Linked DNA regions of Homo sapiens: region 2 is linked to region 1. Evidence: fine-mapped expression QTL. A gene starts in region 1. The other region holds a variant in brackets. All regions are shown on one strand. Distances are from middle to middle.

Region 1 (11,385 bases):
CAAATGAGGGGCAGGATTGTACCCAAGAAAAAAAAAGCTCTGTAACACTATTTTTCTTCTAAAAAAAAAAAAAAAAAAAAAGATGTTAGAATCTCCCATCATATTTCTTTTTCTCTTTAATCTTCTTCACAGTCCTCCAGAGCACTGTGATGGCCACACACCATAACAGAGATAACAGAGGCAGATGATGATCATGACAGCAGAGTAACATGGTGAGTCCCAAGTAGTTGATGTCAGGGAAGACCATGAGACTATATGGGGCCAGGCACAGTGGCTCACGCCTGTAATCCCAGTACTTTGGGAGGCCAAGGCAGATGGATCAGTTGAGGTCAGGATTTTAAGAACAGCCTGGTTAACATGGTGAAACCCCATCTCTACTAAAAACATAAAAATTAGCCTGGTGGTGGTGGTGGCCTGAGGTGGGAGAATCGCCTGAGCCTGGGGGGTGGAGGTTGCAATGAGCCGAGATTGCACCACCTCACTCCAGTCTGGGCGACAGAGTGAGACCCTGTCAAAAAAAAAAAGAAAGAAAGAAAGAAAGAAAACGAAAGAAAGAAAGAAGGAAAGAAAAAGAAAGAAAGAAAGAGAGAAAGAAGAAAGAAAGAAAGGAAAGAAAGAAAGAAAGAAAGAAAGAAAGAAAGAAAGAAAGAAAGAAAGAGAAAGAAAGAAAGAAAGAAAGAAAGAAAGAAAGAAAGAAAGAAAGAAAGAAAGAAAGGGAAAGAAAGGAAGGAAGAAAGAAAAAGAGAGAGAGAGGGAGGGAGGGAGGGACAATATGGGCTTCTTTGTGGCTATGGAGTTTGCCAACTGTGCCACTTTTGAACTCATTTCTTCCTCCCTCATCTAGATCTTGTCAAAAAATAAATGTAGGACACAAATCTAAGCCATAAAGGAGAAAATAATAAGAGATATATATGAGGAGGTAACACAGCAGGATGAGTTGGCCCGGAATTTTTAGTTTGAAGACTTACATATTAAATTCTGTGACCTTAATTGTTCCTTATCTGGATACACCAAAGAAAGGCTGGATATTGGATATATGATTGAGCTAGAATTATTCTTTGTTTGAAGTAGAGGGATATTTTGTGGACATTTTTTTTTTTTCCAAGACAGAATCTGGCTGTCTTGCCCAGGCTTGAGTACAGTGGCACGATCTCGGCTCACTGCAACCTCTATCTCCCAGGTTCAAGCAATTCTCCTGGCTCAGCCTCCTGAGTAGCTGGGATTACAGAAGTGCGACACCACGCCTGGCTAATTTTTGTATTTTTAGTAGAGATGGGGTTTCATCATGTTGGCCAGGCTGGTCTCAACTCCTGACCTGGTGATCCGCCCACTTCGGCCTCCCAAAATGCTGGATTTACAGGAATGAGCCACAGCGCCCGGGCGACATTTTGTTTTTTTAATGGAGCCAGATGCAATATCTGTGTTGTGCAGCCCAGGTATTTAAACACTTGAGCACACATCAAACACAGGAACAGCTTTTTACTTACTCTCAAGTTGATTGACCTCCAGGTAATAGTTTTCAAGGTTTTCATTGACAGTTGGTATGTTTTTAAGCTTGTTATAGGACAGATCCAGCTCAACCAGGGATGACACATTGAAAGAATTTCCAGGTATTCCACTATCAGCCAGTTCGTTGTGAGATAAACGCAGATACTGCAATGCATTAAAACGCTTGAAATACTCATCAGGGATGTTGCTGATCTTATTGTTGTCTAAGTAGAGAGTTAGAAGAGAGACAGGGAGACCAGAAGGCAGTCTGGCTATCTGATTGAAGCTCAAGTCAAGGTATTCGAGTGATTTAAGACCTTTAAAAGCAGCTGAAACAGCATCCTCTTTCAGCCGATTGTGCTGGAGATGGATGAAGGTCAGGTTTACCAATCCTTCAAAAGAGCCCAGCTTTGTGATCTTGTTATGAGTAAGCTGCAGATCCTCCAGAGATTTGGGAAGTGGGCCCACAGACTCTGTCAGGTTGTTGTGGTTTATATGCAGCTTCTTCAGTTGTTTCAATTTAGAGAAAACTCTCCCTTTTATCTTGGAGTTTTCTAGAAGGTTGTGATCTAGAATGAGCCACTGCAGATCAGTTACATTCTCAAAGGCCTTTTCATCAATATGGTCAATCTGGTTATTCCTAAGGTAAAGATACTTGATTCCAGGAGGCACCATTGGTACACTTTTCAATTTCAGCTCATCACAGTACATGGCACTTGGGTAGCTTTCAGGGCAGTTACATTCTGGTGCACAGTTTGGTGATGATTGCCCATAAATTGATAGGGGAAAATCATAATCATAGTACTGGCCACTGGTACCACCAATCAATGCCAGGAAGAGAGTAAATGCACTTAGACTCATTTTTGGCAAATGGTTTGAATCCTAAATAAAGATGAAACATTTATTAATTAAAAAAATATATACTTTCAAGAAAAAGACATTCAATTTGCAACATTAAATTCATTAGAAAATGTGCATTTTGTTATTTTATAGCTATTTTTAGTGCATCTAACAGCGTCTTTTAAATTTTTATTTAGGTATGAGGACAAAGGTGTATGTTTACAACTATGTAGTGAGCAGCTTTCAGGTTAGATTGCGTACACGTGCGCCCCCTTCTGGGCGAGCCCAGCCTAATTGTTCCAGTCAATCTCCAGGCTCTTCCTTAATGAAATGCCTTCCTGTAAGAGGTTTCTGGGTGGTGTTCATTGACCACCGAATTAGACTACTGCTTCAGATCATCTCTCAAAAAAAGAGAATGAGAAGACAGTTTTTAACTGTATACTCTACCCTACCATTCGACATCATTAAAATGACTCATGAAGAAGATCCTTACGGGAATATGGGCAACCTGAGGTTTTGCTTGTATGTGGGAGGGAAATGGAAGGCACATTCCTTTAAAAGTGTCTGGTTACTGTTGGTTCTGAGGAAGGAGAACAGAATTCTTGGTGCTGGTGTGCATGCATACTAGTTCATGTTGTGCTTAACATTCTACACTTTTTAAAGCACATTGCAAAACTGTGTTCTGGAACTAATATTTCATAAATTAGCTATTTACTAAACAAAATATTAGTAATATTTAATAATTGCTAATGTTTATCAGGAAAATGTCACACATTCTGAAGGTTTCTCTTTCTGGAAAGAGATTCAACAGGTAGAGAAAGATAGTATTTTCCAAGTTTTCAATTAGAGTTATAGTCTCTCTCAATTACTCACAAGTTCTCTACTTTCTTCATGCCAAAATCGAAGATGCCATGGTTTGCATATCTGGCTTTTAGTGGCCTCACAGAATGGAGGTGGGAGAGAGGTGTGATGTTTTTAAAGTTTGGATTTAATACTGGTGTTAGAACTATCTAGTAAATTATTCAATTGAGAATATGAATTTGAAATAATGTGTAACAGTTATCTTCTCATAGGAACATGTTTCTAAGGTGAGGCTCAAAAAAGTACATTTCAATGTCTTAGGTGCAGCAATTTAGATATGGGAAAATTGGAATATAAGAGTTAGACTTTTATAGAGTGAACAGTTGTGGCTGAGGCAAAGTTGGTAGCCCTGGGAGATAAATCATTAATGTGACGAAAGATCTACATTCTAATAGATAACTGAGAATATTATATCTTTCTATGAAAGTATGATTACAAGCTTTTGGATCAAAGTAGTTTGGGATAAGCAGGATCTTTGGGGTTAGAAACTGAAAACGTCTTTTATTTGTTTTAATTTGAAATTGTAAGGCACTTTATTTCAGATCAGATGGAACGTTATAAAACAGCTTTTAGAAATACTTTGATTGCTGACATAAGGTAACATGTAGCCAGATTCTCAGTAAATTACTCTCTAAGATTTTAATGGGGGCATTTAATTTTGCTGACAGAACTTGGCCATAATAATAATTGCATAGCACTAAAAAGAACGTGATGACATATTCCCAGAGTTATTTTAAGTTATAGAATGTAAATACTGTAAAGATTTGTCTTGCTTTATTAATAAGCTATTTTAAATTTACTATACACCAAAATATGGCAACTATAATGTGAGTATTAAATAGTAATGAAAAATGCTTCCATATTTTTTGGCAAAGTAAAAACAAGGATGCTGAATTGAATGAGAGTTTGCAACCATATAATGACTCCACTATGAGGCAAAATCACACTGTACTACCCTCAGTTTTTTCAAATACCTGTGGCTATAGAGAAAATGCTGTTTTCAAAAACGAAATCATTTCCCAGAACTTTTTAAAAAACTCGTTCCTTAAGGCATATATCCAAGAAACAAATTTTTTAAATTAACAAAACAGAAATAAATAATCCATAAGAGTTCCTAAATCTTTTAGCTCATGTTTTATAACATAGAACGTTTATTGTAAATTATAACAAATTGTCACAATATGCTTATTAAAAGATATTTTGAATGCTGATTAAAATGACTTTTCTTTGCTCCAGTATTAGGGTCCAATACTAACATATATAACTAACTAGCATACATAACAAACATATTAATTTCTATATTTTTTCACTGTGTCTACTTTAACTATTTTCTCATTCTAACCTTGAAACTTTTTATAACTTCTCTTGCCAAGCAATACAGCATATACTGTATAAAATCTCAAATCTATAAATCATGGAAAACATATTAACAAAATGTGAAACTAAATGCTCAGAACTGTGGATTTGCTGTTGAATAGCAATTGGCAAAATTGCTCTGGAATTTTTCCTGTTCCTGTTACAAAAAACGCTGTCCCAAACAGTTAACATCCCCAGTGCAATAGTTAAAACAGCACTTACCTTACTGTCTTGACACTGCTTTCGTTAATTCTTAAAGCAGATGCACTATGGACAAGAATCCACCAATATATGCTGTGAACTCTGTCAGGACGGAACTGGCTGCCAGATTCTGAGTGATACAAGAGCTGAAGGGGGGTGGGGAGACCCAGCCCAGTCACGCCAGTCTCTGAATGGAGTTATGTCATTGTGGGGATCTTGTGGTGTGGCATGTGAACACTGCTCTCTAACGAAGTGCAGGTGAACGTGGGGAGAAAGGACAGCCCAGCTCATTCCCTATGGAATGGGAGAGAGATATGTGTTTAACTAGCTCAAATACCATAGCTTTTAACCAAGAATTGAGTCCTGCTTCAAATAAGGAAGCTCACTGTGAGAACATTTTTCTTACAAGCCTCTTTACATCTGTGGCTGTGGCAACAATTAAGTGCAATGTGCTCAGCCAACTATCATGTTTATCTAAAGATCTCAGAAATCATAAGCAGGGCAAATAATTTCAGGAAAACGCAAATGAACAGACTCAGAGGAATTGAATCCCTTTGCCTATCACTTTTGAAATCAATATTGATTTACTTGGACTAACTTAATTTTTTGGCCATGAGGGTAGCTTACATTAGTTTTAAAAATATAAAATATGCTTCATATACACTTGGATACACATGATAAATATCAACATTTCAAGTTTACTTCTAATGCTAAGGAGACTCATTTTATGTTATTCAGGTCTGGAACCAATCAGCAAAGTCTTGCCTGTTTTTTATTTTGTGGATTTCGTTTAGGAATTCACCCAAAACCTTACTTGGGGAGAGCATTCTATAGCTTAATGCCAAAAAACATAAAAGAACAGAGAAAAAAATAAATTTATACTAAAAGTATCACAAGGCAAGAATCTTTCATTGCATGCTAGTAATTTTTTTTCAAAGTTAAAAGTTATTCAAAGTTATAATCTCCCAAAGGCCTGGCTGGATATATCTTTCATTATCAGCTCCTGATGCATGGTTTCAGCAAATGAGAGATGTACTTAAATCCTTGTCTATTTCATTTTGTGATTTTATCAGATATATTTATGAGATTTTTTTCTAAAATGTTCATTTCCTCATGTTTATAAGAACTTTTACACCAATATATTTTAATATAAGTTGTCACATTGTATTTTTGTCTTTAAAAATAACTATATCACATTTTAGCAGTGAGACTTGTGGAAAATTAACTCCATGACTAATACTGCATTTGTCCGAAAAAAAGACTATTAGAATAAATGGCTTATTTTTGTAATAGCAGTGTTCAAAAACAAAAAGTAATCTTCTTGAAAGTAACTAATGGAATTGTAAGATGATTCATAAACATAACATTTTTCCTAATATTATTTTAAGAAAATTATTGATAGGCCTCAGTTTCAACAAAGTAACTGAATAAATTTATAAGGAATTAAGAAAAAAAGACAAATCAATCGAATATAATTAAGTGATCTTGTTATAAGAGGATTCTTAAAACAATGCTATGTATTAATTTTGAGTGTATCAAATTCTATAATCTGAGCTCTTGTTAGAAAAACTCCACCTATCCATTCCTTAAGATTTTTCTTTATAAAGCAATACATGTGTTGTGGTATTTATAACAGACCTCAAATGCATTATATTGGATTTAGCTCATTGTAAAGTCTTGTCAACATATACTTTTTAATAAAATCAGTTCTGTGAAACCAATAATTGAATAATTTTGTGCGTTTCAGAGCATATTTTCAGGGTCCAATAGAAAGAAATGAAATTAACATTTATAGTGGATCTAATATATTCCATGATTTATACTCAGAGTTTTCACATTTCTTCCTTTAAATTTCATACATTAAAATTCCTATGGTATGTTTTACTACTCTATTTTCAGGAGTATAAATGGAGAGTCAGAAAGTCTCATTCATTTGCTAAAAGTCACCTAACAAGTAAATGTAAGAATAAAACCATGAACATCTTCACTCACTGGGAAGAGGGTGAACAGGATGGAGCTGAGACAATGTAGTTCACTCAATCAGCTTAAAATACTTTATAGACAATGTTACTATCAGTTGAGAAAAAGCAGAAATATTAAATAGGCAATAGTTATTTAAAAAGTCAAATGTTAATTAAGCAATAGTTTCTTTCCTTTTACATTACACACTAACATATAACATGCATAGCCACATCCACATCTCAGAACTTTTGGGTAACGTATAAACATTCCATCCTGGCCAATGGTGATTCACATCATTGGTGATAATGAGCATTGGAGGCTAAATGCATTTCATCACAATACAGGTTAAAATGATGGGAGTTCTCATTGTTCACCTCCCACTTATGAGTGAGAACATGGGGAACAATACACACCCGGGCCTGTCAGGGGTTGGTGGGCACGGGGAAGGACAGCATTAGGAAAGATACCTAATGCATGCAGGGCTTAAAACCCAGATGACGGGTCAATAGCGGCAGCAAACCACCATGGCAAATGTGTAACTAAGCAACGAACCTGAACATTCTGCACATGTATCCCGGAACTTAAATTAAAAAGAAAAAAAAAAAAAGATGGAATTGCCCTCTTCAGCCCAGGGACTGGATTCCCTGTTACCTGAGACCAGCAAGGATAATAAAGCATGTTATGACTGTTTCACACACTGTGTTCTGAACCCAGCCCTGGACTTACAGGGGAAAAGAATAAATTAAGTATTCCATCCCAGAGATAACTATCTTTTGGTATATCTTCTTAATGTGTGGGTATAAACATAAACACACAGACAATTTGGTTTTCACATATATCATAACATTATGCTTATAGTGCCAGACCCATTTTCATATAACAGTAAATCATTGATGTTTTTCTATATCATTAAATATCATTCTCTACTGTCATTTTTATTTGCTACATGAAATTCTGTTATATGGATATACCATAATGTAGTTGTTAGTTTTTAATATTGAACACTTGATTTCTCTTAAAATTTGCAAAGCACTATCACATAAAATGAAATTTTAATCTTTAAATTGGTTGTACCTGCTTTGTCTATTCTGCTTATCTCAAAAGATACATTTTAAATGAAAGCATATTTTGAGTAAATGGTTTATGCTTTCAAATCATAGAGTGGAGTGGATTTGAATTTTTTCTCTTCTCACAACAATCTAATTCCCATTCTTAATTTTAGCATCTTACAAGTCATGAAACTATCTTTTATTTACATAGTCCTTATACTCATAGCTGTATGTATTTTCAAACTTACTCTACAATTGCTTTTATTTTTCTTAGTATCTTACATGACAAGTACATTTTTGGAATTATCAATGATATGGTTTATTATATGTTTTTCAGTAATAAGTGTGCATTATAAGAGTAATATATATAAATTGGAACACTATACCAAAACATTAACCAGCATAGCAGTATATAAGGTTAAACATTAAATAACCCCTGGCTTAACTAACTCTCCAATTGCACTTTCTATAAGTAATTGTTGTTTAGACTTTATTAATTCAGATGTTTCAGACATGTCTTATATACACAAGAGAATTTCATTTCTCTTTCCTCTTTTATGGCAGCCTATGAGATAACTCAGACAGTTCAGAACTCAGATAACTTCTTCACTTAGGTAAGTGCACAGTCATAAATTTGCTTTTGGGAGAAATTCCTCTTTTCTCATGATAAGCAATGCTGTATTGAGGAAGTTTTGTGCAAGATAGCTTAAGGAAAATCCCAAAAGTAAGTGGGCTTTCTGGAGAACACAAATTTGTACACATATTTAAAAATTTTATAATTATTACCTAATTACCTCCAAAATGTTGTTCTGCTTATCACTCCCATCAAAGGTAGATGAGAATACACTTTTTCACCAGTCATTCATGAAGTTTGAATATGATCAAGCTTAAAATATCTATGATCTAATTGTTAAAGTTTTATTTCTTAAATAATATCTGGTAGTGCCAGTCTCCCTTCTTTATTCCTTAAGTGTAGGCTTATCAAACCTTAAAGCATCTGACCATGGCTAAACTCCCTGATGCCATTTTCTTTCCTCCTTCTGCCTTACATTCTAGCCATTTTGACCTTTACCCAGGACCTGATATATGAGAAGTCTGTTCCTACTTCAGGTCCTTTACCAGCTGTTCTCTTTGACTGAAGTGCTGTTCCCACAGACTAGCGTTTCTCAAACATTTTGCCTACAGGACTCTATGTACTTAAAATTTGTTGACGTTTTGAGGACCCCAAAGACGTATGTGGAGTCCATCTACCAGTGTGTATCACATTCAAAATTAAAACTGAGAAATATTTTAAAGCATTTAAGTAATTCATTATGATAAAAATAACAAGTCCATGCCATGTTAATATAAATACCATTTTTGTGAAAATATTAACATGTTCCAGAAAAAAACAATGAGAAAAATGGTATTGCCTTATATATTTGCACACCTATTTAATGTGTCTGAAGTTAGCTGGATTTTTATGTCTGTTCCCTTGTTCAATCTGTTAAGATATGTTGCTTTGATTGATGCATATAATGAAAAACTCACCCTACATAAATATTTAATTGAGAAAACAAGCATTATTAGTAGCCTTTTTAGGTAATTTCAACTCAATTTTATTCCATTTAAATTCCAACTCAATTTCAACTCAATTTAATTATCTCAGAAGTAAGCATTGAATTTTACCAGAAGCCACAGGACATCTGACAATGACATTGTTCTGATGGCTAGTAGAAGATCTGCTTGTGTGTTCTGACTTTTTCCAGAATTTTCCATAGTCATGATTTTCAAATACAAATGTGTTTTCAATGACCCAGTTTGTTCTCGGTAACACTACTGTATTCCTATTTATCTTTGTTTATGTCTGCTTTTATTTCTGCAATCTAGTTATTGTCCAATAAACCACTATTTTGTAATCTTTGTAGTCTTGTTTTGGAATAGTATTTTTATTTTTTTCAACTACTCTTCTTTTTGAAGAACAATCAGAACTCATCAAGTGGTAGTTTCTCAAAGGCTAGTTGCAATGTGGTATTTAAAATTACATCAACGAAGGTTTTCTACTATTTCCAAATTCTAATTTTTGCTCGAAAGTTTAAATTTTGCCAACTACTCTCAGTTGTTTTTCTTGAAACGAAAAATAGACTTTATTTTTTGAGAGTGTATTTACCAAATACTCTAATCTGACAAACCACACTTTTAATTAAAAACGGGTTCCAGAAAAAAAGTGGCTAGTTCAACCAGAGTCAGCTGTAGATTTGTCCATTTGTAAGGCAAAAGTACAATCCACAGATATAGTATTAATTCAATCTTCATGTCTTGAGTAAATCTTTATTTTGATTAATTACTGTATCATTGGAAAGTAGCTCGCTGTAATTTATTTTGCTGACTTTTTGTCCAGCAGACATTCAGCAAGGGTTTTGTAGTCTTCAGCGTTTGTGCGTATTTCTCAGACCATGCAATTTGCTTTATCTAGTAAAATGGTCAGTGGCTTTGCAATTTCCAGTTTGAAAGCTATAACAAATAATTTTTGGCTTTTAGAGTCCATTACATCTACAATTAACTATTTAGCTCATTTTTCTGTAAAATCTGAATGATTGGTCTCAAAATGTTGCTAGAATTCAGTTGTTACCATAAAAATATTTAAAATGTTTTGTTGTATAAGACAAAATAAATCAAATTATTAATATATACAATTGAAATGTAAATATTATTTCATTATTTATTAATAATATTTATTAACATTATTTATTGGTTTTCATTATATTTCTGTTGCCTATTTTAATTTTCGCTTACTTTCTTTGGAGAAGGGTGCTCTTTCCCATAATTCAGAGAACTCCTTCATATATGAATTTTGTGCAGTGTAGCTACGGGTTAAGAAAAAAAGTCTTCTATCTCCCTTTTGGAAGATAATGTGGTTTTTTGTTTTGTTTTGTTTTTTTGAGACGGAGTCTTGTTCTGTCGTCCGGGCTGGAGTGCAGTGATGCAATCTCTGCTCACTGCAACCTCAGCCTCCAGGGTTCAAGCAATTCTCCTTAGCCTCCCTAGTAGCTGGGACTACAGATGCCTGCTATCATGCCTGACTAATTTTTGTATTTTTAGTAGAGACCGGGTATCGCCATGTTGGCCAGGCTGGTCTCGAACTCCTGACCTCAGGTGATCCGCCTGCCTCAGCTTCCCAAAGTGCTGGGATTACAGGCATGAGCCACTGTTCCTGGCCTCATTTTTTAAATATAAGAAGAACATATTATAATTTTTTATCATTGAATATAACATTAAATTCAAAATAAAAATATGTTAAATAAAATTTAAAGAGTTAACAAACTTTGAACAAATAAAAATAGTATTACAAAACAAGCCTGCAAAGATTACAAAAGAATGATTTATTGGACAATAACTAGATATTGCACAAATAATAGCAGAGATAAACAAAGATAAATAGGAATACATAGTGTTACTGAGAACAAGCTGAGTTAACCACGAAAAGCACATTTATATTCCAAAATCATGACTACAGAAAATTCTAGAAAAAATAAAAATACATAAGCAATTATTCTACAGCCATCAGAACAAAAACATCATCACATGTCACATGGTTTTTGGAAAACCCCATTGTTCACTTCTGAGATAATTAAAGTGAAAAGTACAA
Region 2 (11,385 bases), 250 kb before region 1:
TAATTTCCCATCTCTTACAGTCCTTCTTCCATCTTCAATTTTAAAGAGACCTCTGATTTTCTATAACCTTTAAGGCCATGAAAGAATTCCAGTTATTACATTAGAAATGTCATCAATTATGCAAACAAATCAGAGCTGCTGCTAATATCTAGCAACTGTGCAAAATTACCTTACGTAGAGTAAGAAATATCTAAGAGATAAATTTTTTGGAAGGAGATAGTGGAGAATAGAGTTCAGGCTTGGAAAATTGGAGAACTGACTTTTACAGATCCTGGGGGGAAAAGACCAAAGGAAGCTTAGAGATGAATATTCTAGCTTTAAAGAATAACCTGGAGACTTAGAAAGTATGGATGATAGCAATTGAATTCATGATATGGAGTTAGAAGTGGGAGAAGTGGAAGGATATACTACCGACTTTATGCTTTGGATATTTAGACCACTTATTTTTTCCTTCAACTTTTATTAAGTTTGTGGGTACATGTGCAGCATGTGCAGGTTTATTACATAGGTAAACGTGGGCCCTGGTGGCTTGCTGCACAGATCAACCCAATACCTACATATTAAGCCCAGCATCTTTTAGCTGTACTTCCTGATGCTCTCCTTCCCCCAACTCCACCCCTGATAGGCCCCAGTGTGTGTTATTCCCACCCATGTGTCCAAGTATTCTCATTGTTCAGCTCTCACTTAGAAGTGAGAACATGCGGTGTTTGGTTTTCTATTCCTGTGTTAGTTTGCTAAAGATAATGGCTTTCAAGCTCCACCAATGTCCCCACAAAGGACATGATCTCTTTCCTTTTTATGGCTGCACAGTATTCCATGGTGTACATGTACCACATTTTCTTTATCCAGTCTATCATTGATGGGCATTTGGGTTGATTCCATGTCTTTGTTATTGTGAATAATGCTGCATTGAACATATGTGTGCATATATTTTTATACTAGAATGACTTATGTTCCTTTGGGCGTATGCCCAGTAATGGGGTTGCTGGGTCAAATGGTATTTCTGTCTCTAGATCTTTGAGGAACCACCACACTACCTTCCACAATGGTCTAATTTACACTCCCATCAACAGTGTAAAAGCAATCCTTTTTCTCTGCAACCTTGCCAGCATCTGTTGTTTCTGGACTTTTTAATAATTGCCATTCTATTGGGCTGCTGCCATTACTTACAATGGCAAAAACCGCAATTACGTTTGCACCAACATAATAACTGATGTGAGATGGTCTCTCACTGTGGTTTTGATTTGCATTTCTCTAATGATCAATGAATCTGAGCCTTTTATCATATGTTTGTTGACTGCATAAATGTATTATTTTGAGAAGTGTCTGTTCATGTCTTTTGCCCAATTTTTAATGGGGTTGTTTGGTTTTGTGTGTGTGTGTGTTTGTGTGAATTTGTTTAAGTTCCTTTTAGACTCTGGATATTAGACCTTTGTCAGATGGATAGATTGAAAAAATTTTCTCCCATTCTGTAGGTTGTTTGTTCAATCTGATGATAGCTTCTTTTGCTATGCAGAACTTCTTTAGTTTAATTAGATCCCATTTTTCGATTTTTGCTTTTGTTGCAATTGCTTTTAGGGTATTCATCATGAAATTTTTGCCTGTGTCTACATCCTAAATGGTATCACCTAGATTTTTTTGTGGGGTTTTTGTAGTTTGGGATTTTAAATTTAAGTCTTTAATCCATTCTGAGTTAATTTTTGTATAAGGTGTAAGGAAGGGGTCCAGTTTCAATTTTCTGCATATGGCTAGCCAGTTCTCCTAGCACCATTTAGTAAATAAGGAATTCTTTCCCCATTGCTTGTTTTTGTCAGGTTTGTCGAAGATAAGACAGTTGTAGGTGTGTGGTCTTATTTATGAGTTCTCTATTCTGTTCCACTGGTCTATGTGTCTGTTTATGTACCAGTACTATGCTGTTTTAGTTGTTGTAGCCTTGTAGTATAGTTTGAAGTCAGGTAGCGTGATGCCTCTAGCTTTGTTCTTTTTACTTAGGATTGTCTTGGCTATTTGGGCTCTTTTTTGGTTTCACATGAATTTTAAAATAGTTTATTCTAATTCTGTGAAGAATGTCGTTTGTAGTTTCATGGGAATGGCATTGACTATAGACCATTTTTATCTAAGATTCCTTTAGTCAGTTTACTAGTGTGAATTGTGCATGGAAAATATTCCTGTCTATATCTTAATAATTCCTTGCCTCCTAAAATACCCTGCAACTTCCATCTACCGCCTAGGTTCAGATTCAGATACGGTGGTAGTTGTCAAAAGGAGTGGGGAGTATTGATTTGATATACCCACTTGCCATCCCAGTGCAGTCATCTGGCAATGCCTGGAGATATTTTTGGTTGTAACACTAGGGAATGCTACTGCATCTGGTGGATAGAGGCCAGGGATGCTACCAAACGTGCTAAAATGCACAGGACAACTCCCACTCCTCACCCTAACGAAGAATCATCTGGCTCAAAATGTCAATCAGGTTTGAGAAACCCTGAAAGGGAGTGTTATAAAATACTTATGTTTATTTGTTATTTGCAAGGCTGTGTTTTCCAGTACATTGTCTTATTTTAACCCATGACATCGCAGTGATCTAGATTGTCCCCATTTTGCAGATTTGGAAACTGAAGTTGAGAGTGTTCAGAGTTGCCCGATTTTCCATGACTCTTAAGGACAGGTGGCAGTCTTAAGGTCTTGAATTTTAAGTGTAAGATTTTATGCAGAATTATCTTTCCTTTATCTCAGTATGTAACTTCTGAAATGTATATCCACATAAATTACACCATATTAATGTGATGAGTTTTTATCCAAATATACATTCCTAGTAACGCATTGTTTAATTGTAGGGTTCATGTTGAAATGAAGAGCTATATACCATCTTTAAATCTTTATTTTTTTTCCTCTCCAGTATTTTCTTACCTCCTTTTTTTCTTATTCAAGTGAATGGTGCTTAATTAACTCAACTGCTCTAAACATATACCTGAGAGACATCCTAAATATCTTGCTTATTTCTACTACTCTTTCCCCTACAATCAATTATCACTGAGGCTTGCCAATTCTATCTCCTAAACATGGCTTACATTGATTACTTCCCCTCTATTCTAATCACTACTGCCCTGGTTCAGGTCTTTATCACCTTCTCTTTGCAACACTCATGCATTCATTGTTTCATTCAATTACTCCTGTTTTTATGTATCCATTTATTCAAAAATATCCCAAACAATTAGTGAGTATACATCCTATGTTCTAGGTTGCTGAGTGGGATAAAAACAAATACAATTGTTATCTAAAAGAACATTTAGTACAATGGAAAGAAAAAATAAAGGTCCTGGCAAATAACAATTATATATGTGCTCATAATGACAAAATAAACTGTTCCAGCTACTAGGAAAGCACATAGGAACACCAAAATTAGACTGAAAGCCAGGCCAACCTATCTAGAAGAAGCAGTGACTGAAATGAAACCTACAGAATCATTAGGCAAGGCAAAGGATAGGGGGTTGTAGATTTTATTACTAGTTCTAATACTTCTTTCACTGCACTCACACTTTTACCATATGACCTTGCAGTCCCTCCCACAAAAGATGGAGGACATATTTCCCATCTTTTTTACTCAGAATAGACACATGTCATTTGGTTTGACCAATTATTAGGCAGAAGTGACTGTTGTCTAGTTTTGTGACTGGGCCTTAAGGGATCTTGCATATTTTCACATTCCCTCTTGCATCTCTACCATCACCACGGAAATAACATGCCCAGGATGGCCCACAAGCTCCAAGGGGAAGATGAGAGACACTTCGAGCAAAGCCCAACTTAAATAAGCTGACTAACCAGCTGAATCCCAGCTGTGTACATAGACACAACTCACATTTTGTGGTTGTTCGATAAGCATCAATTGCAAAGCAGAAATTTTTTGTGATGGAGGTGGCATTTTAGGCAAACAGAAGAACATGTGTACAGGATTAAATAACACTTGGAAAATTACACTCTTTTCAGATAGATTGGGGCATAAAGTTGGGGCATAATGTGAGATTAGCTAGAAATGATATAAAACAAGTAATATGGGATAGATTATGCACAGCATTGTATGTCACACAAAAGATTTAAGAGTTCTTCTTGAAGAATGTAGGCAAATAAGCAGAGAGCATTAAGCAAGAGAAGATGTAAAGAGACATTCATTTTAGAAAAGTCAAGCTGACTGACTATAGTAGGGAAATGGGTTGGAGAATGTGATTGAAATTTAGAATGGCCAGTTAGGAGCTGGAAATGTTGAAAAAAAAAAAAGCCTAAACTAAGGTAGTGGCAATGGGTGTAGAAAGGAGGTAAGAAATTCAAAGAGTGCTATGGAATATATACATATTAATGTTGCTGATCACTTTTTTTGTACGCTCTGGGGATGTGACAAATATGGGTTAGGGGGATCTCAGTCTGTACTTTGATTTAGGCAACTGAATATACATAACCTTAGTAGTACCATTCACTGAGTTTTGTTTTGTGCTCTTTTTGGGAGGAGATGGGGAAGAAAAATAATCCATATGAAGATATGTTGCGTTTCAATGCCTATGAGATACTAAGAAGTAGGTATTCAGTAGAAAGTTGAAAACTTGGGTCTGCTACTTAGAAATAAGGCCTGTTTTAAACTAGATATGTGTCAGATGATTTAGAGAAACACAAGGAAAAAGTCAAGAAAAGATAGCATCAAAATTTAAGGCAGCAGTTGGGACACAAAGGGAGATAAAGTGAATAGGCTTATAAGGAACTGTCAGAAGGAGGAAAAAACAAGATAACGTGGAACAACAGGATGAAAATAGAAGACACACGTATAGTGATTATTATGTAGCAGGCACTATTCTAAACACTTTACA[T/C]ACATACATAGATTTAATCATTACAACAGTCTTGTCAAGTAGATATAATGATTATCACCATATTACAGACTGGAAAGTGAGGCACAGAGAGGCTACATAATGTTCTCAAGGTCTCACAGCTAATTGATGGTAGACAGGGGATTCAGAGCCTGAGTTGAGGCTCTTAGTCGCCATCTGGACAAGAGAAGAAACAAGCCTGAGAGAAAGGAGTGGCTATCAGCATCAGTTCCTGCTTGTCGAATAAAGATCTGAAAGAAGCTCATTGGTTTCAGCAACAAGGAAACATTAATAACATTTACGAAAATAGTTTTGATGGGGAGATAAAGATAGAAAGACAGTCTTTGGTGTTGCCAACTGATATGGTTTGGCTCTTTGTCCCCATCCAAATCTCACATTGAATTGTAATCCCCAGTGTTTGAGATGGGACATGGTGGGAGGTGATTGGATCATGTGGGTGGTTTCTAATGGTTTAGCACCATCCCCCTAGTGCTGTCTCACTGTAGAATTCTCAGGAGATCTAGTTGTTTAAAAGTTTGTAGCATCTCTCTAGGCCAGGTACAGTGGCTCACGCCTGTAATCCCAGCACTTTGGGAGGCCGAGGCAGGTGGATCACGAGGTCAGGAGATTTAGACCATCCTGGTCAACATGGTGAAATCCCATTTCTACTAAAAATACAAAAATTAGCCAGGTGTGGTGGTGCACACCTGTAGTCCCAGCTACTCAGGAAGCTGAGGCAGAAGAATCGCTTAAACCTGGGAGGCAGAAGTTGCAGTGAGCCGAGATCATGCCACGGCACTCCAGTCTGGATGACAGAGCAAGACTCCGTCTCAAAAAAAAAAAAAAAAAGAAGGAAGGAAGAAAGAAAGAAGAAAGAAAAGAAGGAAAGAAAGAAAGAAAGAAAGAAAGAAAGAAAGAAAGAAAGAAAGAAAGAAAGAAAGAAAGAAAACAATAGTGTAGTACCTCTCTCCCACCCACTCACTCTCTCTTGCTGGCCATGTGAATATGTGCCTGCTTCCCCTTTGCCTTCTCCCATGATTGTAAGTTTCCTGAGGCCTCCCCAGCTATGCCTCTTGTATAGCATGCAGAAGAACTGTGAGTCAATTTAAACTCTTTTCTTTATAAATTTCCCAGTCTCAGGTAATTGTTTATAGCAGTGCAAGAACAGACTGAGATTTTCCATGGCAACTTTCCTGACTTGGGGTCCCCCAGCTCTTCTGTTCAGGTTGGCATTTTCCAGAACCAGGGGCTGAGACCATATTTAGGATGCAAGATGTTTATCAGGGATCCACTGTGAAAGGAAGATGGAAGAACTAGATAGGGGAAAAAAAGAGGTCAAACCGTGATGCAGACCTGAAAATTTTCAGTCAATCTGATAGGAAGCTATGGAGTGATGATTTCTATTAAAGTTGCGCTATACTGGGTTAAAATGGCTTGGTTTTATAACCACTCTTGGCTGTCACCAGTTGTGAGCTGCTCCAGGAATGGTGTGACCATGAATGAAGGAAGCTGTTGTAGCTGAAGCAGACCTTTAAAAAGCAAACAGCTGAAAACCATCTGCTGACCAAACCACCTGCGGAAATCCTTTGGGCGGAATGGGATGAAGCCGTTTCATTTCTACCACACCTTGCAACGATTGTTTAAGCTTCTATTTCCTTATATTAAAATTTAATACTTGAATAATTTAAAGTGGTTTTTTTATTTGATTGATTAATAGACATAAGCAACTTTTTGATTATATTTTAATTATTTTCTTGATATCTGCCTCTTTAATAGATCGGTAGCATCCTGAGGTTATAGAACCTATATTTTCTTATTTTTTGCATCATCTAACAGAACATATGACTAATAATAAAATGTGTTAGTAATTGAATAAGAGGGGCATATGAAATAGGTCTTAAATCATTATTAAAGTTTCCCAGTCAGAGCACAGGAATAAAGGCTAAATAGCTTTTGTTCTAATAACTGCAGTCGCGAAACTATTTTCTTTTGTGTTTTTAAGACATATAAAGGAATAGTTTACATTTATTCACTGCCCTGTAAACGCTTAATCATCTCCCCAAGCCGACATCTCTTCAAAAACAATTGAGATAATAAGTAAAATACATTTTTTTATTTTCAGATAATTTGTTTAAATGTAAATATTTCAGTATGTAAACCATTTTCAATGGTTATTTTTGAAAAATCTGAATTGTATTCATAAATTTCATGTTTAAATTCAAACACAGAAAAATAAAGATAACATTTTTTAGAAGTTTTTAAAATACAAAAACATTTTCTATTTGTAATTAATAAGATGTTATACATTTTTCTGTCTATGTTTTTGTGGGTTTTACTTTATGCTAGGCAATATTTCTATTCATCTTCTATAAAAGGGATAATTTATATATTTTTATAAAAATTAAATTACGTAGCATATTTAAAGTACCTTAGGTATAATGGATTCTAAAGTATGTCTCACTGTAGTATGCCTTAATTATCGTTTTATTTGGCAAAGGAATTGCCATTCCATCTCCATATTTTTAGCACCAAACATAGTATTTGACCCAGAGTATGCACTAAATAAATGTTAGTTTATTTAAAGTGAATAAAAAATCAATAAAATAGGTTCAAAATTATGATAGGAATTTTAAACAATTAGAAATCAAAGAAAAAACTAGTCTCAGGTATATAATGGCAGCATTTAAGGCTTATATTGCATTGTTTTCTTCAAATATTAGCTCACAAATGATGTTTGTCCATCACCCAAACAGATGTTCATTTTAAAGTCTGAATGATGACTCAGAAAGAGAATATGAGATTACTTACTTTTCCCTTTCAGTTGAGCATATAAAGGTGTTCACAAAAGGTGTTCATAATATAAAGGTGAACACAAAAAGTGTTCATTTGTGGTAGATGGAGAGCTGGAAATGTAATCTCCAAATACTAAATTCACAAAATCACTATTTCCTAGTTAAAAACATTAATTGTGAGGTTACTATTGTTTCTATCATCCATTCTTCTAGAATTGTAAAGAAAAAAAAATAAAATAGATTCCATTACATAAATCAAGTTATCTTTATGCTTTTATATTCAGCAAATACTTATTTGATGGCTCTCCAATGTGTGAAACAAAGTTCTTTGTTAATGTGATTAATCCTATAAATCAATAAAGCTACTTTCATAAAGGATCTATTGCTATAATAAAATATAGCCAGCTCCTAAAGCTGTTCATTTTACAGTTTACCCAACTGCTTTCCTAAAATACTAACTCCCCTTATCATCCAAAGCCTGCCCAGCCTCCACTGCCAATGTCAAGTTTTGTTTAGCACAAGGTGACTAGGGTGTTGAAAATTAGGATTTTAGTTCTCAAGTCACCTCTAACTTAAGCTACATTATCTGCTGGAGCTTGAAGTCTGTTTGTATATAAGAGGATTGTCTACATATGTGATTTCTAAGTTCTGTTCCTACTTTAAGAGTTGCATGGAACTGCAGAGTGTTTTTTCTTAACTTACCGTTTCTTTGCTGAATTTCTACAGCATTTCATACCCACTGCCATATAATCTGGTGCTTGGAAAACAATATATTTAACTTTGTATGGCTTTCTCTTTGTTTATTGCCTGTACACATGTCTTATTTTCTTTTCTTTTTTTTTCTTTCTTTTTTTTTTTTTTTTTTTTTGAGATGTAGTCTCGCTCTGTCACCCAGGCTGGAGTGCAGTGACGCTATCTCGGCTTACTGCAAGCTCTACCTCCCGGGTTCACGCCATTCTCCTGCCTCAGCCTCCCGAGTAGCTGGGACTACAGGCGCCCGCCACCACGCCCAGCCAATTTTTTGTATTTTTAGTAGAGACGGGGTTTCACTGTGTTAGCTAGGATGGTCTCGATCTCCTGACCTTGTGATCCGCCCACCTTGGCCTCCCAAAGTCCTGGGATTACAGGCGTGAGCCACCGCGCCTGGCCATACGCGTCTTATTTTCTAAATCAAATTGCAAATTCTTCAAGGAAAGTCTTGTACTTAATCTCCACTAGTCTCTCTCTCACTTACAACAATATTTAAGACATAGTTGATACTTCTGGGTTTATTTAATAAAGCCATTGTTCAAAAATTTAAACTTAGAAAAAATTAGATGACAACTATTAATATTATTGTAGAAAGGGGCCCGTTGCTTTACCAAATAAGTAATATTTGAGAAGTGTACAGAATTGTCAAAACTTTTCATTGCTTTCTCCCAGTAAACACATGTGACCAGAGGAGCTTCCTAAACATGGAGTGTCAGAAACACATCTCTGCCTTTTCTCTTTAGGAGCTACCTTCTTTCACAACTACACTCAAAGAAAGAAATAATAAAATCTGGCTTACCTGTTCAGAAGTTGCCAACCCCTGCCAGAAGAAAAAATAAAAATAAAAATAAAAAACAATTGGAGGAAATGGCAGTTTGATGGGAAATGCTAGGTGAGTGTTCTCTTTTTTATTTCGCCTCTCCTTCCCCTATCAATCTGGAATAGTTCTTCTCATTCTGAATATGTCTTTCTCCCCTGTCTTTTCTCCCATCCTTGCACAAGGCTCTGGAAATGATTTTTAATATGTAATCTGAATGGTGCTCTGGAGCTTATGGTCTTATTCAATCCTCCTAAGAAGCTTGTGAAATAAATATAGAATTTAGCATCTGAATGTCACACAAATGAAATTGAACTTTAGAGTGACGGAGCTGAGATCAGAATCCAGGCTGGGTGTAGTGGCTCATGCCTGTATTCCCGGACTTTGGGAAGCCAAGGTTGGCTGGAGGATCACTTGAGCCCAGGAATTCAAGGTAGAAGCCTGCAGTGAGCTATGATTGTGCCACTGCATGCCAGCGCAAGACTAGTCTCTAAAAAATAAAAAAAATAAAAAACTATAAAATTAAAAATTCACACCTCCCAAAGAAAATTTCTTGAAGTAACTGTGTAAAACCAGAAGCCAAATAATATTAACATAACCTTTCTTTCCTATTTACTTCTTTTGAATTGTCTTTAACTTTTTGTTCTTAAATATGTTTCCATTATACTCATGTTGTTTAAATACAAGATAATCAATAAAAGATACGAAATATTCTGAAGGTATAAGACATAAGACATAGAGCAATCTTTTTAAAAAGTCATTATCCTCTATTATGTGAATGAAACAAACCTGTATTATATTATAATATGAACAATAACTTGATAAAGCATATTTGTAAATTTCATTGATATAAGCGTTTTCAAACTTGATAAAATTTAAAGGGAAATTATTTTGAAACGTTGCATCAGTTTTACACTCTTGCCTCTATTTTGATAGATTTTCAGGGGTATTGTCCCAGAGCTAGTACAAGGGAATGGTGAACTCTCATTTCTTTCACAGTCCTGACCTGGACTTTTTAGAGCATCATAGTTTCCTTTTAAACACTCTACAAGTACTCAAGTACAACCAATTTAATTTTGAAGAATATATGCCAAATATTTTCCATAATGTGTGATGCTTTCCTTACAGCCAGTTGAACTGTGATCTTCAAACTGATTAACTCTGCTTTGTTTTCTTTTTTCTGCTTGTGAGAGCCTGCAGGTAGGTACTGATCCATTCCAGTTAATATCTAATGATGATGAGCTGAAGACAAAATCCCAGCTAACAGCTCCCATCTGTGGTTATGCATAAAATATCTGCTTCTGGCAAGTGACACCATATGCAAATCAAAAATGTGAATACTGCAGAAGTTACATAATATATTCACATATGCCTAAAATAGAAATTTCCCCACTTTTACCATCTTCCATTTCTATAATGCTCAGGAACCCTATAAATAGAGTTAGAAATATATTTTTATTTATATTTTCTAGTATGCTTGTTTTGGCTCTCACATTAAAGAATACTTTACACAACAAATTTAATTTAATGGATATTAATTTTTTAAAATTGGCATTGCTTTTCATGTCATTATAATATTCTTAAGGCTAGTGGCTATATGTAATTATTATAGTATTCCCCTAGGACCTAATACTTAACATATACTTGCTGCCTTAAGGCCTTCTCCGTATTTGCTGCCAGCAAAACCATCCATCCATATGATTCACTGTTTTCAGACTTAAAAATGAATGTAAGTAATATATTCCATGTGTAGATTTTAAACTCTTATTATTTCAGAAAGAAAATTGTCTAGTCTCTCTCTCTCTTTGCAGTTAGTTTCTATTTGGTATTAGGTTGTTTACATTTTAGTGGCTGTATATCTGTAAAATTAGTCTAAGATTCGTCTTAAGGGAGCATCATTCTTAGGGAGCCTTGTCCTTGAGAATAAATTATGAAATTAATAATTAACTTGACATTGCATGAGCAATTCTTGATGGAATCCAGTGTTCAAAAAGAATGTTAGCATCTTGGAAGGAGTCACTGGGGCAACCTTTTAGAGACAAAGTGCTCTTCCTGAATGTATAAGACTTTGCCACTGTGTGTCAGACATCAGAAAGCCGGACATTTATGGCTTAATAATACAGCTCTGTTATCAAATAGTAAGTATGCCCTCTTACTTGGAAACTTTTTATTC

What was found.
Region 2: its variant is fine-mapped to the expression of LUM in coronary artery (GTEx, PIP above 0.99).

The regions. Positions count from the first base shown.
Region 1 is chr12:91,106,631-91,118,015 of GRCh38, forward strand. LUM (lumican) reads right to left here and starts at 4,864. Exons shown (of 3, transcript NM_002345.4): 1 at 4,768-4,864; 2 at 1,488-2,370. The coding sequence starts at 2,349.
Region 2 is chr12:90,860,671-90,872,055 of GRCh38, forward strand. No RefSeq gene overlaps it. Among named protein-coding and RNA genes, the nearest start is that of LINC00615, 52 kb to the right of the region's middle. The variant T/C (reference allele first, on the strand shown) is at 4,857.